Linked DNA regions of Homo sapiens. The protein of the gene in region 6 purifies or fractionates together with the protein of the main gene of each other region. This does not show direct contact. Each region holds a gene or a part of one and is shown on either strand. Other genes may lie near its edges.

Evidence for each region.
Region 1: the proteins of FPR2 (region 6) and MFSD8 purify together in Homo sapiens (affinity purification with mass spectrometry; 2 studies listed by BioGRID and IntAct, with this or other methods). This does not show direct contact.
Region 2: the proteins of FPR2 (region 6) and RTN2 purify together in Homo sapiens (affinity purification with mass spectrometry; 2 studies listed by BioGRID and IntAct, with this or other methods). This does not show direct contact.
Region 3: the proteins of FPR2 (region 6) and FUNDC2 purify together in Homo sapiens (affinity purification with mass spectrometry; 2 studies listed by BioGRID and IntAct, with this or other methods). This does not show direct contact.
Region 4: the proteins of FPR2 (region 6) and TUBGCP4 purify together in Homo sapiens (affinity purification with mass spectrometry; 2 studies listed by BioGRID and IntAct, with this or other methods). This does not show direct contact.
Region 5: the proteins of FPR2 (region 6) and HSDL1 purify together in Homo sapiens (affinity purification with mass spectrometry; 2 studies listed by BioGRID and IntAct, with this or other methods). This does not show direct contact.
Region 7: the proteins of FPR2 (region 6) and TMEM87A purify together in Homo sapiens (co-immunoprecipitation; 2 studies listed by BioGRID and IntAct, with this or other methods). This does not show direct contact.

The regions. Positions count from the first base shown.
Region 1 is NC_000004.12:127,944,674-127,948,173, forward strand, and holds part of MFSD8 (major facilitator superfamily domain-containing protein 8), read right to left. Parts: intron 1-3,500. UniProt on the Homo sapiens protein: Outward-rectifying chloride channel involved in endolysosomal chloride homeostasis, membrane fusion and function. Conducts chloride currents up to hundreds of picoamperes.
Region 2 is NC_000019.10:45,490,548-45,494,047, forward strand, and holds part of RTN2 (reticulon-2), read right to left. Parts: intron 2,832-3,500; coding exon 2,613-2,831; intron 1-2,612. UniProt on the Homo sapiens protein: Inhibits amyloid precursor protein processing, probably by blocking BACE1 activity. Enhances trafficking of the glutamate transporter SLC1A1/EAAC1 from the endoplasmic reticulum to the cell surface.
Region 3 is NC_000023.11:155,050,844-155,054,343, reverse strand, and holds part of FUNDC2 (FUN14 domain-containing protein 2), read right to left. Parts: intron 2,675-3,500; coding exon 2,543-2,674; intron 1-2,542. UniProt on the Homo sapiens protein: Binds directly and specifically 1,2-Diacyl-sn-glycero-3-phospho-(1'-myo-inositol-3',4',5'-bisphosphate) (PIP3) leading to the recruitment of PIP3 to mitochondria and may play a role in the regulation of the platelet activation via AKT/GSK3B/cGMP signaling pathways.
Region 4 is NC_000015.10:43,395,101-43,398,600, reverse strand, and holds part of TUBGCP4 (gamma-tubulin complex component 4), read right to left. Parts: intron 3,495-3,500; coding exon 3,444-3,494; intron 3,019-3,443; coding exon 2,913-3,018; intron 1,388-2,912; coding exon 1,280-1,387; intron 564-1,279; coding exon of another isoform or gene 561-563; coding exon 422-560; intron 1-421. UniProt on the Homo sapiens protein: Component of the gamma-tubulin ring complex (gTuRC) which mediates microtubule nucleation.
Region 5 is NC_000016.10:84,131,678-84,135,177, forward strand, and holds part of HSDL1 (inactive hydroxysteroid dehydrogenase-like protein 1), read right to left. Parts: intron 1-3,500.
Region 6 is NC_000019.10:51,764,180-51,767,605, reverse strand, and holds part of FPR2 (N-formyl peptide receptor 2), read right to left. Parts: intron 1-3,426. UniProt on the Homo sapiens protein: Low affinity receptor for N-formyl-methionyl peptides, which are powerful neutrophil chemotactic factors. Binding of FMLP to the receptor causes activation of neutrophils.
Region 7 is NC_000015.10:42,212,191-42,214,433, forward strand, and holds part of TMEM87A (transmembrane protein 87A isoform 1 precursor), read right to left. Parts: intron 1-2,243. UniProt on the Homo sapiens protein: Potential monoatomic ion channel gated by mechanical force, implicated in normal touch sensitivity through the generation of mechanically activated currents.

The DNA.
Region 1 (3,500 bases), on a different chromosome or scaffold from region 6:
TTTTTGAGACAGGGTCTCACTCTGACATCCAGGCTGGAGCGCAGTGGTCCGATCACGGCTCAGTGCAGCCTCGACCTTTGAGGCCCAAGTGATCCTCCTGCCTCAGCCTCTTGAGTAGCCAGGACTACAGGTATGCACCACCATGCCCACCTAATTTTTTTATTTTTGTAGAGACAGGGTCTCCCTATGTTGCCCAGGCTGGTCTTGAACTTCCCGCCTCCAACTCTCAAAGCAATCCTCCTGCCGCGGGAGGGAGGAATTCTCCCACCTTGGCCTCCCAAAATATTGGGATTAGTGGCATGAGCCACCGCACTCAGCCAGATTACTTTTTTTCATATGTGGTAGGCTAAGCCAGGCGAAGTGGCCCATGCCTGTAATCTCAGCTACTCAGCAGTCTAGAGTAGAAGGATCCCTTGAGCCCAGGAGTTGGAGGCTGTAACACACTATGACTGTACCTGTGAAAAGCCACTGCACTCCAGTCTGGGCAACATAGGAAGATTCTATCTCTAATCTTCCTATTTAATGGCTTTTATTAAATTTTAGGAAATAAATTTAAACAAATATAGATAAGTGGTAGAACAATTTAATAAGGAAAACTATGACCTTTTGTTCCCTAAAGATATTTATTTATTTATTTTATTTTATTTATTTATTTACTTTTGAGACGGAGTTTTGATCTTGTTGCCCAGGCTGGGGTGCAATGGTGCGATCTCAGGTCACTACAACCTCTACCTCCCAGGTTCAAGCGATTCTCCTGCCTCAGCCTCCCAAGTAGCTGAGATTACAGGCATGTGCCACCACGTGGGCACAGCTAATTTTTATATTTTTTTTAGTAGCGACGCGGTTTCACCATGTTGGCCAGGCTGATCTCTTAACTCCTGACCTCAGGTGAGCTGCCTGCCTTGGCCTCCCAAAGTGCTGGGATTGTTGGTGTGAGCCACCGTGCCTGGTAATTCCCTAAAGATATTTAAAGTGAAAATATTTAGGTGCGTTTTTCTTTATGAAAAAAATAAGAAATAATATGCAAAAGTATAATGATACATAATATTTAAAGTTCTAGCCGTTAAAATATCTTTCATTTTAGGTACTCTGGTTTTCATTTTCTTCCTGTATTACCTTTAGCTTCATTTGTCATCTCTACTAAAATAGAAAATAATAATTTCATGTTACATAAAATTTTAATTTTCAAAAAAGCAATGAAAACTCAATTTTAATGTTAAATGTGTAGTGGTTTGAAAGCAAAACTTTTTTTTTTTTTTTTTTCTGAGACAGGGTCTGGCTCTGTCACCCAGGCCAGAATACAGTGGCATAATCTTGGCTCACTGTAACCTCAAACTCCTTTGCTCAAGAAATCCTCCCAACTCAGGCTCCCAAGCAGCTGGGACTACAGGGAGTAGCACCACCATACCCAGATAACTTTTTAAATTTTTTTGTAGAGACGAGGTCTTATATCGTTACCCAGGCTGGTCTTGAACTCTTGGGCTCAAGCAATCCTCCCAACTTGGCCTCCCAAAGCGCTGGGATTACAGGCACGTGAGTCACAGCACTGGGCCTGATAGCAAGACTCTTTAAAGAGTTTTCAAAATATCTGGAGAAAAGAGAGTACTTTTCAAAACTCAACATAGTATGCTGAGTAGACCTAATCACTACTAATATCCTTCTTTTGAGAATTTTGACTAAAAAGACTAAATGCCAAGAAATTAAGAATTTTGATACATGAAAATATCTTTTTAGTAGAGAAGACGTTGCTCCAGAATTGTGCCAATTCCAATGACTACCAGCATGGAAAGAATTTTTAGTGTAATGGGTAATAATTTCATGTAATATTATTTTCAAAATAGCAATGAAAATATGGCACTAAACCAGTAAAAAGTAAAATTTGTATTTCTTTTCTTCTTATATTCCTTTAAAAATATATTTTAGGAGAGCATTTTCAAAAAGTAGAAATTCGTAAAAACTGGGCTGGGCATGGTGGCTCACACTTGTAATGCCAGCACTTTGAGAGGCTGAGGTGGTGGGTCACCCAAGGTCAGGAGTTTGAGACCAGCCTGGTCAACACAGTGAAACCCTGTCTCTACTAAAAATACAAAAATTAGCTGGGCGTGGTGGTGCACGACTGTAATCCCAGCTACTTGGGAGGCTGAGGCAGGAGAATCACTTGAACCTTGGAGGTGGAGGCTGCAGTGAGCCAAGATTGCATCACTGACCTCGAGCCTGGGTGACAGAGCGAGACTCCATTTACAAAAAAAACCACAAAAATTAAAAAAAAAAACAATCCTAACAATCTAGACAATCTAGTAGGGGAGTTAAGTAAACTCTCTGTAAATACAGTGTTAGGACACTCCATATTAAGGGCTAATGATAAAGGGAAACGGGAGTATACAGGAAAAGCTTCTGACCCAAATTGTTGTGAGGGACAGTGAGAGAAGCCTTTCCAGGCCAGGTGCAGTGGCTCACATCTGTAACCCCAGCAACTGGGGAGGCTGAGGCAGGATCACCTGAGGTCAGGCGTTCGAGATCAGCCTAGCCAACATGCCGAAAACCCACTTCTACTAAAATTATAAAAATTAGCCAGGAATGGTGGCGGGTGCCTGTAATCCCAGCTACTTGGAAGGCTGAGGCATGTGAATCGCTTGAACCCAGGAGGTGGAAATCCCAGCACTTTGGGAGGCCGAGGTGGGTGGACCACCTGAGGTCAGGTAGAGATCAGCCTGGCCGGTATGGTGAAACCCCGTCTCTACTAAAAATACAAAAATTAGCCGGGTGTGGTAGCTGGCGTCTGTAGTCCCAGCTACTTGGGAGACTGAGGCAGGAGAATCGCTTGAACCCTTAAGGCAGAGATTGCAGCGCACCAAGATCACGCCACTGCATGCCAGCCAGGGCAACAGAGCAAGACTCCATTGCAAAAAAAAAAAAAAAAACAGAGAGAGAGAGAAGGCTTTCCAGAGGAGGTGACACTGGAGCAAAACCTTGAAGAGTGAATAAAAGACAGTGAGGAAGGAGAAAGGGGAGAGCAAAAGAAAGATGGAGAGAGGAAAAGCATTCCAGTAAAAAGGGAGACAAATGTGTAAAGACCTGAGGAGCCTGGGTTCATCCAAGTACCATGGATTTATCTAATAAATTGTTGGCTATACATCTAATATGGGACAAAGTTCAGAATCTAGGATAAAACACACATATGCACGTGTGAACACACACACACACACACACACACACACACACACACTCTCTCTCCAACCTCATAGAAAAACCAACAAGGGATAAACTGATAAGGAAGAATACACAAAAGAATTTAAGAATAAGTCATTAGAGTTAAGAGGAAAGCCAGGATAGAGAAATGTCACAGAAGCTAAGAGGTGGTGCCATGGTTTGAATGTGTCCCCCAAATTTCATTTTTTGGAAATTAATATTTAAATTAATATTATTAAAATATTGAAAGGTAGGACCTTTAAGAAGTGACTGTGTTACATTAGGTAGCTAGTTGGGTATGAACAGGGCAG
Region 2 (3,500 bases), 6.3 Mb from region 6:
TGTGTGTGTGTGTGTGTGTGTGTTTTGTTTTTGTTTTTATTTTTTTTGAGACGGATTCTCGCTCTATTGCCTAGGCTGGAGTGCAATGGCACAATCTTGGCTCACTGCAACCTCCGCTTCCTGGGTTCAAGCAATTCTCCTGCCTCAGCCTCCTGAGTAGCTGAGATTACAGGAGGGCTCCACCACACCCGGCTAATTTTTTATATTTTGGTAGAGATGGGGTTTCACCATGTTGGCCAGGCTGGTCTCGAACTCCTGACCTCAAGTAATCCTCCCACCTCGGCCTCCCAAAGTGTTGGGATTACAAGCGTGAGACACCACGCCTGACCTTGGTTTGTTTGTTTGTTTTTTTTTTTGAGACAGAGTTTCGCTCTTGTTGCCCAGGCTGGAGTGCAATTGTGCAATCTCGGCTCACTGCAACCTCCACCTCCCGGGTTCAAGCGATTCTCCTGCCTCAGCCTCCCGAGTAGCTGGGATTACAGGCATGTGCCATCATGCCTGGCTAATTTTTTGTTATTTTTAGTTAGAGATGGGGTTTCACCGTGTTAGCCAGGATGGTCTTGATCTCCTGACCTCAGGTGATCCACCCACCTTGGCCTCCAAAAGTGCTGGGATTACAGGCGTGAGCCACCACGCCCGGCCACATTTTTTTTTTTTTTATTTTTAGAGGCAGAGTCTCACTCTGTCACCCTGGCTGGAGTGCAGTGGCGTGATCATGGCTCACTACAGCCTCTACCTCCCAGAGTCAAGCAAACCTCCTACCTCGGCCTCCTAGCAGCTGGGACTACAGGTGGCACCACGATATCGTGCTAATTTTTTTTTTTTTTTTTTTGGACAAAGTCTTCCTCTGTCACCCAGGCTGGAGTACAGTGGCATGATCTCAGCTCACTGCAGCCTCTGCCTCCCGAGTTCAAGAGATTCTTGTGCCTCAGCCTCCCAACTAGCTGGGATCACAGGCATGAGCTGCCATGCCTGGCCTGGCTAATTTTTTTTTTTTTTTTTGAGGCAGAATCTCGCTCTGTTGCCCAAGCTGGAGTGCAGTGGCGCGATCTCAGCTCACTGCAAGCTCTGCCTCCCGGGTTCACGCCATTCTCCTGCCTCAGCCTCCCGAGTAGCTGGGACTACAGGCGCCCGTCACCATGCCCGGCTAATTTTTTGTATTTTAGTAGAGACGGGGTTTCACCATGTTAGCCAGGATGGTCTCGATCTCCTGACCTTGTGATCTGCCCACCTCGACCTCCTAAACCTGGCTAATTTTTAAATGTTTTGTAGAGATAGGGTCTCGCTATGTTGCCCAGGTTGAATTCCTGGCTTCAAGTGATCCTCCCACCTCGGCCTCCCAAAGTGTTGGGATTACAGGCATGAGCCACCGCGCTCGGTCATATATATTTTTTTAATGTCATAAATTTTGAAACACTGCTTACTAGTAAGACCATAACAGTTCTTATTTCCACAAGAAGCAAGAGAAAGATCTTTTCCCAGCATCCTGCCCTGCAGTGGGTTGCAGTTCTTTTTAACTTTTGCCAATCTGTCAGGTGTAAAGTGATATCCCCTTGATACCCTTAGCAACACATGTTTCTAAGTCCTAAATGTATTAATCACGCCATACTCCTTTCCAGGGCCTAACTCAAATTTCTGACCCCTTTCTGAGACCCTAAAACACACCTCCTAAACCCAACCTCAGCCCTGACCAGTGACCTTTGTACCCCAACCTTCATCTCATCTGTCTAAACTTTAGGCTCACTCCTGTAATCACAACACTTTGGGAGGCCGAGGCGGGAGGATCACCTGAGGCCTGGACAACATAGTGAGACCCTGTCTCTACAAACAAAATAAGAAAATTAGCAGGGCGTGGTGGCCTGTGGCTCTAGTCCCAACTACTTGGGAGGCTGAGGTGGGAGGATCACTTGTGCCCAGGTGTTGGAGGCTGCAGTGAGCTATGATCCCACCACTGCACTCCAGAAAGGGCGACAGAGGGAGACTCTGTGGCTTAAAAAGAAAAAGAAACTTTAGTAATCTGCTTTCCTTTGAGTCCTGAAAACCAGGAACTCAGTACCTTTCTATTTCTTTCCAGATCCTCTCTATCCTCCCACACTCCCTCCAACTGACCCCTCCGACCGGTCCCTCTTAGAGGCTCACCCCTCACTTCCGTCTCCTTCCAATGCATCTCCTCTCATTTACCTCCAAATAGGGCAGCCCCTCCCTCCCCATAGCAGGGCCCTCCCAGGCAGGCTCCTAGTGGCCGGCGCCGGTGGATGGGGGAGGGGCCAGGTCGCCTGAGGCGGGGGCTAAGTTTAGGCACGCTGGGGGGAGGGGGCCTCCCCGCAGCTGTTCTGGCCCGTCTGGCCCCTGAGTGACAGCGCTGCCTGGGGCCGAGGCTGGGGGAGGGGGTCCTCCCTGCTCCTGGGCCCCAAAGTGCTGGCTCGAAGGAGAAGGGACCCCATGCTCCCTCTGGGTCCTCCCTATACTGCCCCTCGGCCCCCTAGCCCCAGCCTGCAGCGCTGCGGAAGCAGATCAGTAATAAAAATGCTCCGGATGTGCAGGAGATAAGGGCGAGTTTGGACCCCGTTCCGCCGACCTCAGCCCCCGTCCAGCCCGTTCCGCAAGCCCACCTTTACTCCCCATATCGGCTCCGAGTGAGAGGCTGGGGACACCGCTGCTTCTCGGGGATTTTGCCCACTTCAGTAGAACCCGGAGGACAGGAGTAGGGGGGGTGGGGCCCCTTTGGACCCAGCCAATGGCTGTCCACAGAGGTGGGGACAATTCCAAAATTGGAACCGTCTTGTAAACAGCCAAAAGCAATGATGTCTTTAACCATTCCATAGCTGTTCCTGGAGGCGGAGCATATTTTAAAGTAAGGCTGGGTCATTTTACAACTGGCCAATAGATGTGGTCAGGAAAAAGAGGGTTTTTGTTTGTTTTTTCAAATAGAGATCGAGTCTCCCTATGTTGCCCAGGCTGGTCTTGCACTCTTGGCTTCAAAGGATCCTCCCGCCTCGGCCTCCCAAAGTGTTTAGGATTACAGGCATGAGCCACTGCGCCCGGCCAAAAAGAAGAGTTTTTAAAAGGCACAGAGTTTACTTATAAATATTCTACGGCCACATCTAAATAAGGAGAGAACTGTATTTTTTCAGGGATTTGGCCTGTCCAAAATCAGCCACTAGGAGGAGCACTCCAGAAGAGGGAGGATTATTTTATTTTATTTTTATTTTTTGAGACGGAGTCTCGCTCTGTCGCCCAGGCTGGAGTGCAGTGGCGCGATCTTGGCTCACTGCAACCTCTGCCTTCCAGGTTCAAGCGATTCTCCTGCCTCAGCCTCCCGAGTACAGACGGGGTTTCACCATGTTGGCCAGGCTGATCTCGAACTCCTCACCTCAAGTGATCCGCCCGCCTCGGCCTCCCAAAGGGCTGGGATTACAGGCATGAGCCACCGCGCCCGGCCGGGGAAATTTTTTTAAAAAGCGGAGTTTATCACGTCTAGCCAGATGTGATATCACGTC
Region 3 (3,500 bases), on a different chromosome or scaffold from region 6:
GATGCACATCAGGAGGTAGAGACAATGGCTCTTTGAATCAAGGACAAAGAAGGAGAGTTCATGGGGACAGTTATGGCGAAAGAGTAAAGCTGCACTAAATAAACTGGTTACAGAGGCAATTCTGTTTCCAATTTTGCTCCTTCCATCCTCTTTGGCATCTACCCTCCAATAGAGGCTTCTCATTTCCTGAAGTCTCTCCCCTAAATCTCTCCATCCATGCATTCCCCCCTGAAACCTGCTCCCAGGTAGATGCTATAAATTCTCATTCTCACACTTCACCACATCTAAGATGATTAACAGGTGACGTTCTTATTTCCTTAAGTTCCCAAAGCTTCCCACCTCCCCTCTACCCTCCTGGAATAGCTCCCGGTCATCTGAGACTCAGTGCATACATTCAGACACTCTTTATGGCTCCTTAGTCTGTGCTCTACCAATCTCCTGACCACTCCCCACCCTTCCAATTTCAGAGACAATTTTGATAAGTGGCTCAGACTTCCTCTTTCTCCTAAGTGTGATCACCACCTTAGAAAGTGTTCATATGAACAAGACATCCAACATCCTGGCCTGATCATTTCTTGAACTCAAGTACGGTGACTTCCATCCCCAAACCACCTAAGCTACTCACACCCTGACATTCCCCTAACATTTTTCACACTACCAACCCCATCCTCCTAGGACCACTGTCTTCTAACCCTCCAGTAAGCCCTTACTCCAACGATGCCTATGTCTTCCTGCCTCATTTCCACTCCTCCTCCATCTCTCCTGGACCTCTACATTTCCTTAAATGAAGCACTTTTGTCATCTGCCATTGGGGTGAAGAAAAAAAATCATACAACTTCCTGAGAAAATTGGTTTCGTTTATTATTTTTACTACTCTTTCTTCAACTTGCTAATTTGGCTTTCAACTCCACCACCCCACCAAACTGTTCTCACTGAAGTCATCTTGTTGGTAAATACTGAACTAAATCTTCATCCTGTTTCTCAAATCAGACCACCGGCTCTATGAGTAGGAAAACCAGCCACTACATCCCCAGGGCCTGTGACAGTGAACTCAATTCCAAATTATCTGGTTACTTTATAACAAACTCCCTCTGTGAGTCAACAGTTGGTTCTAATCAAATATTAACTTTATGCTTTTTATTATATACACTTCCAGTATTATTTTTAAAGTTTTCAGCAAGGTGCCATGGCTCACACCTGTAATGCCAGCACTTTGGGAGGCCGAGGTGGGAATACTGCTTGAGCCCAGAAGTTTGAGACCAGCCAGGACAACACAGGGAGACCCTGTCTCTCCAAAAAATTTAAAACTTCACCGGGTGTGGTGGTACACACCTATAGACCCAGCTACTCAGAAGGCTGAGGTCAGAGGATCGCTTGGTTGAGGCAACAGTGAGCCATGACTGTGCCACTGCACTCCAGCCTGGGCAACAGAGTGAGACCTCTCTTACAAAATTTTTTTTTACTCACTGTGGTGAGTCACTGTGCCCAGCCATGCATTATTTTTATAAACATTTGAATAATAAAGTTTTCATGAAATAAAAAATGTAACTTTCCTAACTTTGAGGAGAGACAGAAGGAAGAAAGGAAAGAGAAACTATCTGGGCTCTGGGCTCCTGTAGATACCCATCTCTGCCACCTTCCCACTCTGGGTAAAGGCACCAGCTTTGACCAGCCACTTGCCAATCACCAGCACGAAGAGCCACTCACAACATGAGAAGCCTGAGGCGCACACAGGGTATTTCTCCTCCCCTGCACTCAATCTGTCTGTTTTCCCTGTGAGGCTAGAGTGAGCTAATGGGAGAATCTCTCATCACTCCAGGCTACAGAAAGTACCAGCTATCTTCTTGACACCCTGATCCTTGTTTATTTCTCCCCAGTTCAGTGTACTTATTTATTTGCAACATCTGACATATTTCTAAAGGTAATAAAGCAGCAGCAAAAAATATCCTTTTAAAAAGGAAGGACTTCTCCTGTCCCTGCAGTGCCAGGTCATAATCTAACTTGGCTTTAATGAACAAGATCAGGGGTTAGCAAACTACAGCCCATGGGCCAAATCCAATCTGAACCTGTTTTTAAATAAAGTTTTATTGCAACACAGCCACATCCACTTATTTAACATATCATCTATGGCTATTTTGATGATATACAGTGGAGTTGAATACTTGTGACATTTCCACTAGTTATATGCAGAACAAGCAGAGTATGAATGTTTCAGAGATATGCGTGTATAGCGACAAAATGGGACTCAAAATAATTATACTGGCCATATATCCTTCCCACCTACTATGCTGCCCCACATTCCTACAAGAACTGGTTAAAGGGATAATCACTCCACAAATGTGCACAGACAAAGGTCACCAAACAATTATCCAGCTTTTAAAAATGTTCTGAAGTGATGATAATCCAAGTTAGTTTTGTCTCATTACTCTAAGTTCTTTGTAATGCTTAAGCCCTGTCCATCACTGAGATATGGTACAATAGGGTTAAGCCCTGTTTTTGTCTGCACTGTTCACACACTACACGTGAACAATGCAAGTCTCACCTCCTCAGCTTTGCTCCTGACCTCAGTAGGTATCTGATTGCTCTTACGGATCTTCAGCTGCTCTTTGGCTTTCTTCATGTCCTTCTCCACTCGTTGCCAGTCAACTTTGATGTACCCAGTATGGTTTGCAAGCTACAGTATCAACAATAATGACAACAAGAAATGAGAAACAGATTTGTTATTTCTTTTAGTCAGGATAAATCCTGAAGTAGACTCTCGAAACCCTCTGACTTTCCATTTTTGGAGACATCTGCCATTTGATTCTTTGTATCATGATGACATCTACTCAGCATCCCCCCTATATGCGAAGCCATATGCCTGGCACTAGAAATAACTACTGGCAATTCTTTTAAATTATTTATACTCTTACAACCCTTTTACAAAGAGTTACATAAGATGAAAATCAAGGTGGGGGGTCAAGATGTAGGGTGAAGAGATGGACCTTACAGCCAATACAAATGTTTCCAGAGAATGACTCTGACAATGTGCCCATGAGTGTCAGTTTCCTGACAATGTGAACAGAGCAAAGCATTCAGGCAGTTATTACTGTTGCTTAACAGGAAGAAATCTAGCATCTGGCCCCACAGAGATTTCTCATGAGCAAGTTCATATAAACGGATATTAAGAGAACCACATCCAAAGACACCTACAGCATATACCTATTTCCCTTGATAAAAACAGCAGGCACAAACACTAAAACTCAGTGTAAATCTGATTCAAGCATGTAGATTTTGATGATGGATTAATATCATCCTAGGAATGAAGAGAATGACTGTAGCCAATCAATCAATGCCCTATCAATATCACTTCTCTCTACCAAATTTTTGGCAATCTCAAAATATCTGAAACTAAAAGTCTTCACCTTGCTAGAGTCTCCTCCTGCATTGTTGCTCTTCCTCTAGGCCCTATTTTAGCTAATGGCACCACCAGTCACCCAAACAGACTAGAGAAAATACTT
Region 4 (3,500 bases), on a different chromosome or scaffold from region 6:
AACAAACTGCTTATTATTTGGCAATTTAAAAAAATGATGGTTTGAAGTAGATATGCCCTCCCACTGATTCCAACTCCGTGTCTCATATCTGTGGCTTCACTTATTAATGTGATCAGTCTAGCCCCTGAAGGCATAAGGGTTTACAATTTTTGATTTACAGATTGTTAAAAACTAGTTGGGTGGCTCTCTTGCTCCCATTAATTTTTTTTTTTTTTTTTATGAGATGGGGGTCTTACTATGTTGCCCAGGATGGATTTGAAATCCTGGGCTTAAGGGATCCTCCTGCTCAGGCTCTGGACTAGCTGGGATTACAGGTGTGTGCCACCACACCTTGCTTTCCCACTAATTCTGTTCCTGCTAGTTTCTTCCCTTACAAGTAAGGTGGGTCATATTTACCTGTGAGAAACTCAGAAATACTCACTTTTCCAGGACAGCTGGGGTGAAGAGAATATGTAGTGGCCACTGTACTTTGTAGGAAAGACCTAGGGCTGCCCAGCCAGATGCAGGGGCTTCCCGGGGAGAAGTTTCCCGAGAAGGCCCTTCTCTTGCCTGAGTAGCATCTGCTGTGATAAAAGAAAAGAAAAAAAGAAAAGATAACAACTTGGTTAATCTAGAACCAGAGACTCAACAAGTGAATAACATTAATGAAACTAGAGCTCACAGGAGTTCAAGACCAGTCTGGGCAATACAGTGAAACCCCATCTCTACTAAAAATACATAAATTAGCTGGGCATGGTGGCACGCACTTGTAGTCCCAGCTACTCAGGGGGGCTGAGGCATGAGAATTGTTTGAACCTGGAAGGCAGAGGTTGTAGTGAGCCAAGATTGTGCCACTGCACTCCAGCCTGGTCAACAGAGTGAGACTCTGTCTCCAAAAGAAAAGCAACAGAGCTCAATGGAGTCTGCGATGTCAGAAGCTTACAGGGGACACTAAGAAGGGGGCAAGGAAACTTCTATGTGAGGTTCTCTTGGGAGGTCTTCTAGAGATTCTTTCCTCAGCCTTAAAATCTGGGGGCTGGAAATAAACAGGCACCATTCCAGCAGCATGACAAAAAAAAACACCAAAAAAACCAACTCCCCCAAAACATGGCCTGGGCATCTCACTTAGCCTCTCTGGACTTCTGGACTTTCCTTTTCTTCTCTATAGAATTATAGTACTGTACTAGCTGATTTCTAAGATCCAAAATCATATGGTTTCTGTGGCGGGGGATGGAAGCAGAGATGGGAAAATGGATGATGACCAGCAGGAACTCTAAGGTGGCAGGGAGGAATGGCAAACCTTTGTGCTCCTTTCCGTGATACTCGATTGTCAAGTGCAACAGAGGGAGAAGGTTGTCATCATCTAGCAATACCTTGTGTGCTGACTGTTGAAAGGCCACATTCACATCTGCAAGAAAGAACACGCAGGCTGACAGGGACGCTTGGCTACATAACAAACCCAGACTCCTCCAGCTTTCCACTTCTCCCCCAACATGCTCAATGCTAACAGCAGGACACAGTGGACATCTGTTTCATTTGTCTAACACCCATCCATCCTTCTCTTCTTGCTGACAAACTGCCTCTTGATTTTCCTTGGAGAATCATCCCTATTCAGTACAGTTCACATATTTCCAGTGGGTTAGTGCTAGACAACACCTGATTCTAGGGGTAGCTGGGTGATGTAGGCATGATCAAATGGAATGTAATACTCTACTTTGTTATGCTATATTGTTTAGGGATATTAACATGACCAAGCCAGGCCAATCCAGAGGCTCTATTCAGACTCTAAAAGAGTCCAGCTCTTTTTTCAAGATAAACAGGGGCTTAGTAGGATGTAAACTTGGCTAGAGACTATCTTGCTACCATACAGAGCAGGCCTGTCTGAGAAGAAAGAGGTAGAAGATGGAAAGAGACCAAGTCCTAAAGGTGCCACACCTGTCACTGGATCAAACTTAGCCGAAAACCATCATACGTCTGAGCTTTTCAGTTATGAGAATCAATACATTATTTCTTTCCTTTTGCTTTGCTTAAGTGAGTTTGAATTGGATTTTCTGATATTTGCAACCACAAGTACTTATATTTGTACTATATAAGTACAGTGGACATCTATGGTTTTACTGAGTTAGAAAAATGATCAGCCTGTGTGTATGTATTTTCTTTCTCACAGTTTCTTTTTTTGGATCCTTACCCAACTCTACTCATGCAGTATGAATGGGAATGGACATCAGTGGGTCAAGGGGTAGACTCTTCACTGAACTAGGCATAGCCTAGTGTCTGACCTCTTTGACTGATACAGGGATAGGGATGTGATGTGGGCTGGGCCAATCAAAACCTAGATAATTCCCTAGAATTCTCTAACTTGCAACAAGAGGGACTGGGTTCAGTTCCTTCCGTAGAGGACACTGTGAGGCATATTCCTGGGAGATGCTGTGATCATGTTTCCAGAAGGTCATCAAAGTGTTCACAAGAGACACAAACAAGATGTGGTGAATGAGTGAATGAGAGAGAGAGAGAATGAATCGAAGTTTTCCCACTGGGGTTTTAGATACAATAGCAAATCCATTTCCCTTTCCTAACTAGGCTAGTTCGGGTGAGTTTCCATCATTCACACCTAAAGAATTCTACTGCAAAACTACAAGCAGCACTAAGTCCCAATATGGCCCATAAAGTATATATGGCTATAATCCAATGAGAAAAAATACCTGGTTTGAAGGCCTGAACCAACTCTTCCAGGAAGGGTCACAGGCCAAGACACTGTTCCCAATGACCCCAGCATGAAGCCTACCTGCAAGAGCCTTCCATCTCTGGAAGCCACTGCTCTGTAACTCATCAGGCTGCTCTTATGTGGAGCAGGCCTTAAAAGGGTCAGCAGCAGCCAAGAAATACCCTGCAATGTCAATCAGTTGATCATTCTCAGGGCCACTGACAATTACCATGCTCAGTTACTGCAGTGGGTGGTGTTTTCAACATGTGTTGAGCTGTGTCAATGAAGGCCTGAAACAGTTCTCCACGTCCCAGAAGGTAAAAGTCTTTAATGATCTGAGGAAAGAATTTCAATTTACAATTCAGTAAAGCAAGGCAGGAGCTCCTCACTGTCCTGAGGAATTACATGTATACAGTAATTTCTAATTTCATCAATTTGAGCCCAAGCTACAAAAGATACAGGCATTTGGCATTTCAAAGAGGCATACTTAGTTCCGCATAGCAGGATGACTGGTGTGTATTTGGCATTATTTATTCAATAGCAACATAATTATATATATATGCCAGAAAAAAGTACACTCCCAAATCTTTGTATTATCGTAGATTTGTGGCATTAGGTATAGTTTGCTCACTTGGATAAGAACAAATGAGTTGACTCTGGAAGTCTGGGTATAGGCAACCAGTGCTCTCAGGAAACATCAGAGAATGCAAGTCACTGCCTACCAGCATCACCGTAAGAATTACAACAGCTAAGCCATTACCTTCAGCTGACCCAGTAAATCGGATTCTTCTACCATCAACTTCCAGAGATGCTATGA
Region 5 (3,500 bases), on a different chromosome or scaffold from region 6:
CTAATTTTTTTTTTTTTTTTTGAGACGGAGTCTCGCTGTCGCCCAGGCTGGAGTGCAGTGGCGCAATCTCGGCTCACTGCAGGCTCCGCCCCCTGGGGTTCACGCCATTCTCCTGCCTCAGCCTCCGGAGTAGCTGGGACTACAGGCGCCCGCCACCTCGCCCGGCTAATTTTTTGTATTTTTAGTAGAGACAGGGTTTCACCGCGTTAGCCAGGATGGTCTCAAACTCCTGACCTCAGGTGATCCGCCACCCTTGGCCTCCCAAAGTGCTGGGATTACAGGTGTGAGCCACCATGCCTGGAGATTCAGCCAATTTATGATCTCACCATTTAACATCCGTAGCTTATAAAGTTACTTTCTTCCAAGGAGACTAATCAACATAACTACCAGAAGTTACCAAATTCCCACTAAAATTCAGGTACTACACTACATGCTGTGGCTACAGAGATAAACACAATATGCTCTGTGCCTGTAACATGCTCCTAGTCTAATAATAACAAACACAAAGCTTCTAATTCATACAGCAGAGGTACATGTATTTCTTTGCTTTATTCATAATCAGCAAGAATGGAGGACCTACTACCTGTGTAGGGACAAAGGAGATGAAACAGAGGTGGCACTAAGACATGGCCTTGGCCTCAAAAGCTTACAATCCACTGGAGACAAAACTCAGCTTTCAAAAACCTTTACATCAATTAAAAAAAAAATTTTTTTTAAAGAGATACCCTCCAAGCTTGGAAAAATGGCTTCTCAAATGACAATAGAGGGAGCACTCCTCCATCTTCTAACTTAATTTGTAACCATTATGTTGCCTGGTCTCTTACATTTGAGGAAAGAAAAGTCCAACACAACTCTGTTGAGTGTCCACATAGCAAGTATATACTAAGCACCTACTATGTTCTATGTACTGTGATTCAAAGGATTCACAGATGAACTAAATGACCGTCCCTAGGTGAAGACGCAGACATTTAACAAAATAATGTAAAATGCCACATGATGTGGTAGGTGTGTGCCTGCAATCAGAGATAACCCTGCAGAAGTAGACAAAGGCCAGGCATGGGGGGTCTGGCCACAGACCGAGTGAGTGGACTTCATATCAGGCTAAACCAACCGTGTGCATCCTGCGAAAGACAAAATATCAAAACAACTGCAATAGACTACACTTATATTACAGGGAACTCAGATACACACAAACCCAAGGACACAGCTTATATTCTAAAAAGAACATGATTTTAAGCCAAAAGAAAAAGAAATATAAAACTTCTGGGGGTGGCAACTTTTGAAGAAATCCCTTTAAAATAGAAAAAAAAAAAAAAGTCTGGATACTAAGAAAATACCCAACAATAGCAGCACAAATTAGCCTAAGTTTGAGAAAGAATGGGGAATTCCCTCCTACTCCACTGCAGTGTAATCTGAGCTCAACAAAGTTTTGCAAAGTAAAAAAGGAACCAAGCAGAAGAAAACAAATGAACCACTGAAACGGAACACATACAAGAATGGCACCATATTGTGATAAAAGGCATATAAAATAATTTTAAAACTATTGAATAAATATATATAAATGTGTAGTGTGAATTACAAATCAACAAAACGTACACAAGAAATATGACTGAAAACTGAAGAAATGGAGAAGCAGTAGGATTCCTAAATGCCCTACGATAAGGAAACAATCTCTCTAAAAAAGAAAGTTTCATACTGGTACCGTATTAAGTTGATATTGCTGCTATATTAAGTTACCAAATTAAGCCAATGTGGCATTAAGTTTAAAAAATGTTTTCCTCAGCCGGGCGCGGTGGCTCATGCCTATAATCCCAGCACTTTGGGAGGCCAAGGCAGGTGGTCAGGAGTTCAAGACCAGTCTGGCCAAGATGGTGAAACCTCGTCTCTATTAAAAATACAAAAATTAGCTGGGCATGGTGGTGGGCACATGTAATCCCAGCTACTTGGGAGGCTGAGGCACAGAACTGCTTGAACCCGGGAGGAGGAAGTTACAGTGAGCCGAGATCATGCCACTGCGCTCCAGCCTGGGCGACAGAGTGAGACTCCATCTCGAAACAAACAAACAAAAAAGTTTTCCTCAAATGAAAAGTTGGGCCCCTTTATTCCCTACAGGTAAAATGCTGTCCACTGGGGCTCTGTGCACAGAAACTCACCTCCCACAATGAGAATGCCAAAGTTCATCATGAAAAGGAAACATTTTAAATTTGACTAAGTACATAAACCAAATACTTAAGCTAAAAACAACTAAAATAAATGCTCCTTTGGGGTAATTTTTCTTTATGAACCAGATTGGCTGAGATGACCTAAAATATGAGCTGTCTAGTTCAACAAAGTCTTTCTTTTTTCTGAGCAATCTTCCGTACAGCAGTCACCAATACCCCTTACTGCTCCCAAATCCTTTGATTGACAATCCTTTGAAATATATTCAAAGTTAGGGCCCCCCCTTCAGTGTAGCGAACGAGCATACCTGTTTCCAGATCTGCATGAGAGGAAGCCGCGCCACCACCCCTCCCACAACCCTCCTGCTGCTGGATATGCTGATGACGGGCACGGTATCAGAGTTTTCACACTGGCTGTAGCCCTTGAACAGTCATAAGTACTGGACTCCCAAAGACAGGCCCAAAACATTAATATCCTATAAGAACATTAAAAACTGACATTCCAGCCAGGGACGGTGGCTCACACCTGTAATCCCAGCACTTTGGGAGGCCGAGGTGGGCAGATCACTTGAGGTCAGGAGTTCAAGACCAGCCTGGCCAACATGGTGAAACCTGATCTCTACTAAAAACACAAAAATTAGCCGGGTATGGTGGTGACTGCCCAGCTTGGGTGGCTGAGGAAGGAGAATCACTTGAATCAAGCAGGCGGAAGTAACAGTGAGCCAAGATTGCACCACTGCACTCCAGCCTGGGCGACAGAGTTAGACTCCATCTCAAGAAAAACCCCAAAAAACAAACAAAAAAAACAACCGAGATTCTATGTTAGACCATCCTAAATTGTGAGTTCCGGAAATAACTCATAAAAAGTGTGGGTGCCTTTTGTCATAACTAATCAAACACAAGGCCATGAGGAAAGTAAATGCAAAAACAATTACCTGTATGTAATTACCTGTATGTACCAGGACCTCTCAAGCAAAATGTAATAAAATTGGGAATAACAAGCTATGACTAAAGAAACCTAGACACTTGGAATATTAAGCTTATTCTTCTAATAACAGGTAGGCATACATCTAGGCTGTTAAAACAGTGTTTTCAATGAAAAAATAGATACTACAGGCCAGCCACGGTGGCTCGCGCCTGTAGTCCCAGCACTTTGGGAGGCCGAGACGGGCGGATCACGAGGTCAGGAGATCAAAACCATCCTGGCCAACAGGGTGAAACCCTGTCTCTACTAAAAATACAAAAAATTAGCAGGGCGTGGTGGCGGGCACCTGTAGTCCCAGCTACTCAGGAGGCTGAGGCAGGAGAATGGCATGAACCGGGGAGGCAGAGCTTGCAGTG
Region 6 (3,426 bases):
AAACCACAATTGTGTTTAGTTACTCACCCTGCAGAGAAGGTGTCTTTTCTCCATGTTGGGAGTAAATCCTGACTAGTCTAATTAGCACTAACCAGAATCCCTTTTACTTTGCAAGGGATTGCTTTGGTAGTGGACACGTGACTAAATTGTGGACAATAACATTGTAAGAATATGACCCTTCAGAGCTTCTCAGATCAAGTTTTTTTGTTTTTGTTTTTTTCTTTTAAGAACAAAAACCCAAAACATGTAGTCCCTGCCTCTGGTCCGGATCACATCTGTAATATTTGTATCCAGTTCAACACAAAGTCCCACGTCACCTGAGCACATTTTCTTATGCCGTGGTCTGTGGACTTTATCAGAAACATCCAGGCTGCCTGTTAAAATTGTATTCATTATCCTTAGCAAACTAATGCAGGAACAGAAAACCAAATACCACATGTTCTCATTTACAAATGGGAGGTAAATGATGAGAACACATGGACACAAAGAGGGGAACACTGGGGCCTACCGGAAGGTGGAGGGTGAGGGGAGGGACAGGATCAGGAAAAATAAGTAGTGGGTATTAGGCTTAATATCTCAGTGATGAAATAATCTGTACAAGAAAACACCAGGATACAAGTTTACCTGTATAACAAACCTGCACATATACCCCTGAACTTATAATAAAAATGAAAAACAATTATATCCATAAATCTCATTCTAGAATCTGTATGTGTAAAAGCCAGGATGATTTGCTATGGCCATGAGAATTTGAGAATCATCTCAGACTGGGCTATTCAGCATCTTTAAGAGAAATAGCAATTCCATAGCACTTGTTCACATCTAATGCTCATAATAACATTGGGAAACAGCCATCACATCTGGGGGAATTCATGGCCCGGGGACTTCTGTAGTTTTTTTCAACATCATGCCCAGCCAGTCAGTGGAGGCAGCAAGATACGGAAACCGAGATGAACAACTCCAGAGCCACTGCCTTTGCATACGGAAGTCCTGCCTTTGAAAGGGATTCCCCCAAGATTACTAGGATAGGGCTATGCCTCAGTCTGGTGATTTTTAGCCTTCTTCCTTTTCCTTATTTCCTCCTTTTCTTCCTGCTATTACCAGTGAGTTTCACTGAGGTATTCCATGGGACGTTATTTAATGTAGCTCAGGGTTTCTCAACCTTGGCACCTTTGACATCTGGGTCTGGGTAATTCTTCGTTGTGGCAGACTGTTCTGGACACAGTAGGATGTTGAGCAGCCCCCCTGGCCTCTATCCACAGACACCAGTAGCAACTCCTTCTCCAGAAATGACAATCAACAGGTTCCATAAACATTGTCAAAGGTCCCCTCGGAGGCAAAGTCACCCCCAATTGAGAGTCACTGTTACAAAGAATACTGGGCTCAGCCAGATACGGTGGCTCACGCCTGTAATCCCAACACTTTGGGAGGCCAAGGGGGGTGGATTGCCTGAGGTCAGGAGTTCCAGACCACCCTGGGCAATACGGTGAAGCCCCGTCTCTACCGAAAATACAAAAAATTAGCCGGGCCTGGTGGCATGCACTTGCAGTCCCAGCTACTCGGGAGGCTGAGGCAGGAGAATCGCTTGAACCCGGGAGGCGGAGGTTGCAGTGAGCCGTGCCACTGCACTCCAGCCTGGGGGACAGAGCGAGACTCTGTCTAAAATATATATATATACTGGGCTCTGAAGTCAGCTACATCTCTCTTCTAATCTCATCTGTGATGTCTCCTCACTATGAGTTTTTAGTCAGTGATATCTCTTTGAGCCTCAGTTTTCTGCTCTGCAGAACGAGGACAATTTTATGGTGAAGTCTAACTTTCAGGTGAGGATTAAGTGAGAATAGATGTGGAAATCTTTTAGGCTAGACTGAGTATATCTATGACAAATGGGAACTCTTGGCCCTCACCAGGCTGTGTGCTGTGTCGTGGGGCTCAATCCATTATGAAGTTCAAGGTCAGGACAAGAACGATGCTCATAGCAATAGTTGTTTCTACTTATGAACATTACCCACACACCAAGAGCTTTTCCTTTAACCCTATCAACGCCTCTCACAGGATCTGTGGATGGGCTGTGTTAATATGTGTGAACACTGAGCACTCCTGAGACACAGTGAATATTGATTAATCTTAGTGATATTAGGTTGGTGCAAAAGTAACGCTGTTTTTGCCATTGAAAATAATATCAAAAACCACAAGTACTTTTGCAGCAGCCTGATAATTAGTATAACCATTGTACAGATGAGGAAGTTAAGACTTAGATGGGCTGCGTTAATTGTTCAACGTTACCAGGTAGAAAGAGTAGAGACAGAATTGGAGCTCAGCCAGATTGATTACAACAGAATTGTGCTGTTAACCCTTTTCCACCCCATAGTTCCTCAACAGACTCAGATTTTCTCTATCCACACTCCAAACATTCTACAAGACACTTAGAAGACATGATCTATCCATAATTTCAAATTCATTTTAAAATGTTGATACAGGCTGGGCGCAGTGGCTCACGCCTGTAATCCTAGCACTTTGGGAGGCCAAGACAGGTGGATCACTTGAGGCCAGGAATTTGAAACCAGCCTGGCCAACATGGTGAAACCCTGTCTCTACTAAAAATACAAAAATTAGCTGGGCATGGTGGTGGGTGCCTGTAATCCCAGTTACTTGGGAGGCTGAGGCAGGAGAATCACTTGAGTCTGGGAGGCAGAGGTTGCAGTGAGCCAAGATCGTGCCACAGCACTCCAGCCTGGGTGAAAGAGCGAGACTCTGTCTCAGAAAAAAAAAAATGTTGATGCAACAAGGAAGGATGATTGTGCAATGACAGGTGAGGACAAATTAACAAGGCAAAAATTGCAAAGTTTTGGGTCCACCCTAGTTGTAATGTAAGGAGGAGAACTGCGAACCACAGATGATACCTGTACTGATTATGAGGTCTGCTATTTGGTGAGTCCTTAATATGTGCCAGTCACTATATATTTTATCATCTCTGATTACAATACCCTTGCTTTGGGACAAGTGCTGTCCTTGTGTAACAGGTAGGAAAGTACGGCTCAGAGAGCGGAAGTGACTTTCACAATTATCGAGGGTTGCAATTGAATTTATGACCACAGATTTCAAATGAAAACTCAGCAGTTCCTCATTAGGTTACTCTACTTCTCCAGCGCACTCGCTATCCCACACCTTAATTATTTCAGTCCTGCTTTCTCCAAAAAGTACCTCATTTACTCTGTTTTTCCCACTCTCAGCAGATGCCCTTGACTGACATTATAATGAGAAAATGGTAATAACTAGATGTGAAATTTTCAGCCGGTCCTCCCCTGACCCTCAGTCTACCTGCCTCTGTCACTGTGAATAAAGACTTCTTGTTCTTTCCAATAATTTCCCTCCCTGCATTGGCCCAGGATGCCCTCTCATCTTCCCACAAACTTTCCCCCTGCA
Region 7 (2,243 bases), on a different chromosome or scaffold from region 6:
TTAAAAATCATGTAAAAAATAAAATTACATTTAATTTAATATAGTATTTACAGTATCCCATTTCAATTAAAATAATTAATGTACTACCCTTAAATTTCCCTTCTTAGGCAATTTTATACCTTAGAGTTAATTTTCATTTTTCTTTTGCTTCATTTGCGAAGTACCTCTCACTATTGTATCACAAACTGACAGAACTACAAATCCTTTTTGAATATAATCAATCACATCAGATAATCTATAGATGTTTCCCTTTTTCTTAAAAATATCCTTTCCGATGCTCTCTGTTCTCCACTCCATCCAAGCCTGGTGCCCAGCTGCCAACCTGAGAATTTCTTACATCATACTGGGAATTTTTCTTGTCTCTGTGTTGGACCCTTTATTTCCTAGATCCCAAGTCTTTTTCCTAGCTTCCTCATTTTTGTGGAGAACATTTTCCCCTACTTTCTTCAGAAACTGCATATAGAACATCAATTATTTTACTTCTTGTGTGACTAGAAACATCTTTATTTTACCCTCATAATGATAGTTTAGTTGAGTACAGAATTCTAGGTTGAAAATGATTTTCCTCAGAATTCAAAGGCTTTGTTCTGGCTCCCAAAGATGTTGTTGAAGAGCCTTATGCCATTTTGATTCCTGGTCCATCATGTAAATTGTTTCTCCTGTAATTCATTTAAGGTCTTTTTCAGTTTTAAGGGAAAAAAAGGCCTTGGAGAAAGTGATGTCAGCAAGATGACAGAATAGGAAGCCCTGGACACTCCTTCCCTCTACAGACACACTGATTCAATAACACATGGAAAAATTCCCTTTGTGGGAAATCCAGAAACCAGTTGAGGGTCTTCTGCACTATAGGAAAGCATGAAACCAGCTGAATCAAAGTCGGCAGAAAAACCTGAGGCACCCTCTTGCCATAATTCTTCCCTTCCCATGGACCCAGCACAGTACCACATGATAGAGAGGAAACCCTCAGCTCCCAGCTTCTTTTTGCAGAGGGAAGGAAATGACTGGAATGTACATCCAACATTCTGACTTTTCTGGAACCTGCACGAGAGACTGTTTTCTGTCTTGCCTGAGTCCGAGAGCTAAAAACAAAGGGCCCAGGTTGGAAGTTGCTGAAATCAAAGTGGAAGTTTGGACTAGCAAGCATGAGCTCACTACAGCCGCTCCCCCAGCTCAGTGCAGAGTAAGCAGGTAGAATCCCCAACATCCCCAAATCCTAGCTTTTCCCTAGGGAGGAGAGATGGACTGTGAAAATGTTCCAACTTTGTAAGAGGTTACCTGAGGGAATGGTTTCTGTAGGGAATGGTTTGAAGCACAGATGGGACCAGTATATTTTAGGTGCCTGGGGCCAGTATGAACAAAAAAAGAGCTGGGCTATGCCACTGGCTCCAGGAGACCCATGATACAGCAGATAAACACAAAAGGGAGCAAGAGATTATAAATTCCTGGGGAGGGAAAAACCCAGCAAATCCCTCTGATTGGGAATACATATGCAGAAGTCCAGAAAAGACATAATACAGAGTGGGTTAGAGAGGCTATCAGAATGATTGATGAGGGTGTTCTCCTGTACAATGCCAGTCCATGAACACTGGAAAGGTAACTGTTTTTTTTTCTAATGCAATGAAACCAACACAAAGAATTAAGGAAAATAGAGAATCAGTGAAACATGGCCCAAACAAAGGAAGAAGATAAATCTCTGGAAACCAACCCCAGTGAAACAGAGGTATAGGAATTATTTGAAAGAGAATGCAAAACAACTATCATGAAGATGTTCAACGAACTCAGGAGAACAATGCATGAACAAAGTAAGAATTTCAATAAAAATATACAAAACATTTTTAAAAATATGCCAAGAAACTGGATAACCTAGAACAAAATATATAATTCCTAGAAGTATACAATCTACCAAGACTGAATCATCAAGGAATAGAAAATCCGGGGGGGGAACACACAACCTGGTAAGACCTACAACAAGATTCCATCAGTAATCAAAAACATCCCAACAAAAAAACAGCCCAGGACCAGATGGCTTCTTTAGTTGAGTCCTACCAGGTACTTAAAGACAAAGTAACACTAATCCTTCTTAAACGCTTTCAAAAAAATTAAAGACGAAAACATTTATTTGGAAGGAACTTCCAAACTTATTCTATGAGGCCAGCATTACCCTAATGCCAAAGCCAAAGACATGACAAGAAGAGAAACGACAGGCCAATATCCCTGATGAGCAGACGCAAAAATCTTCAATG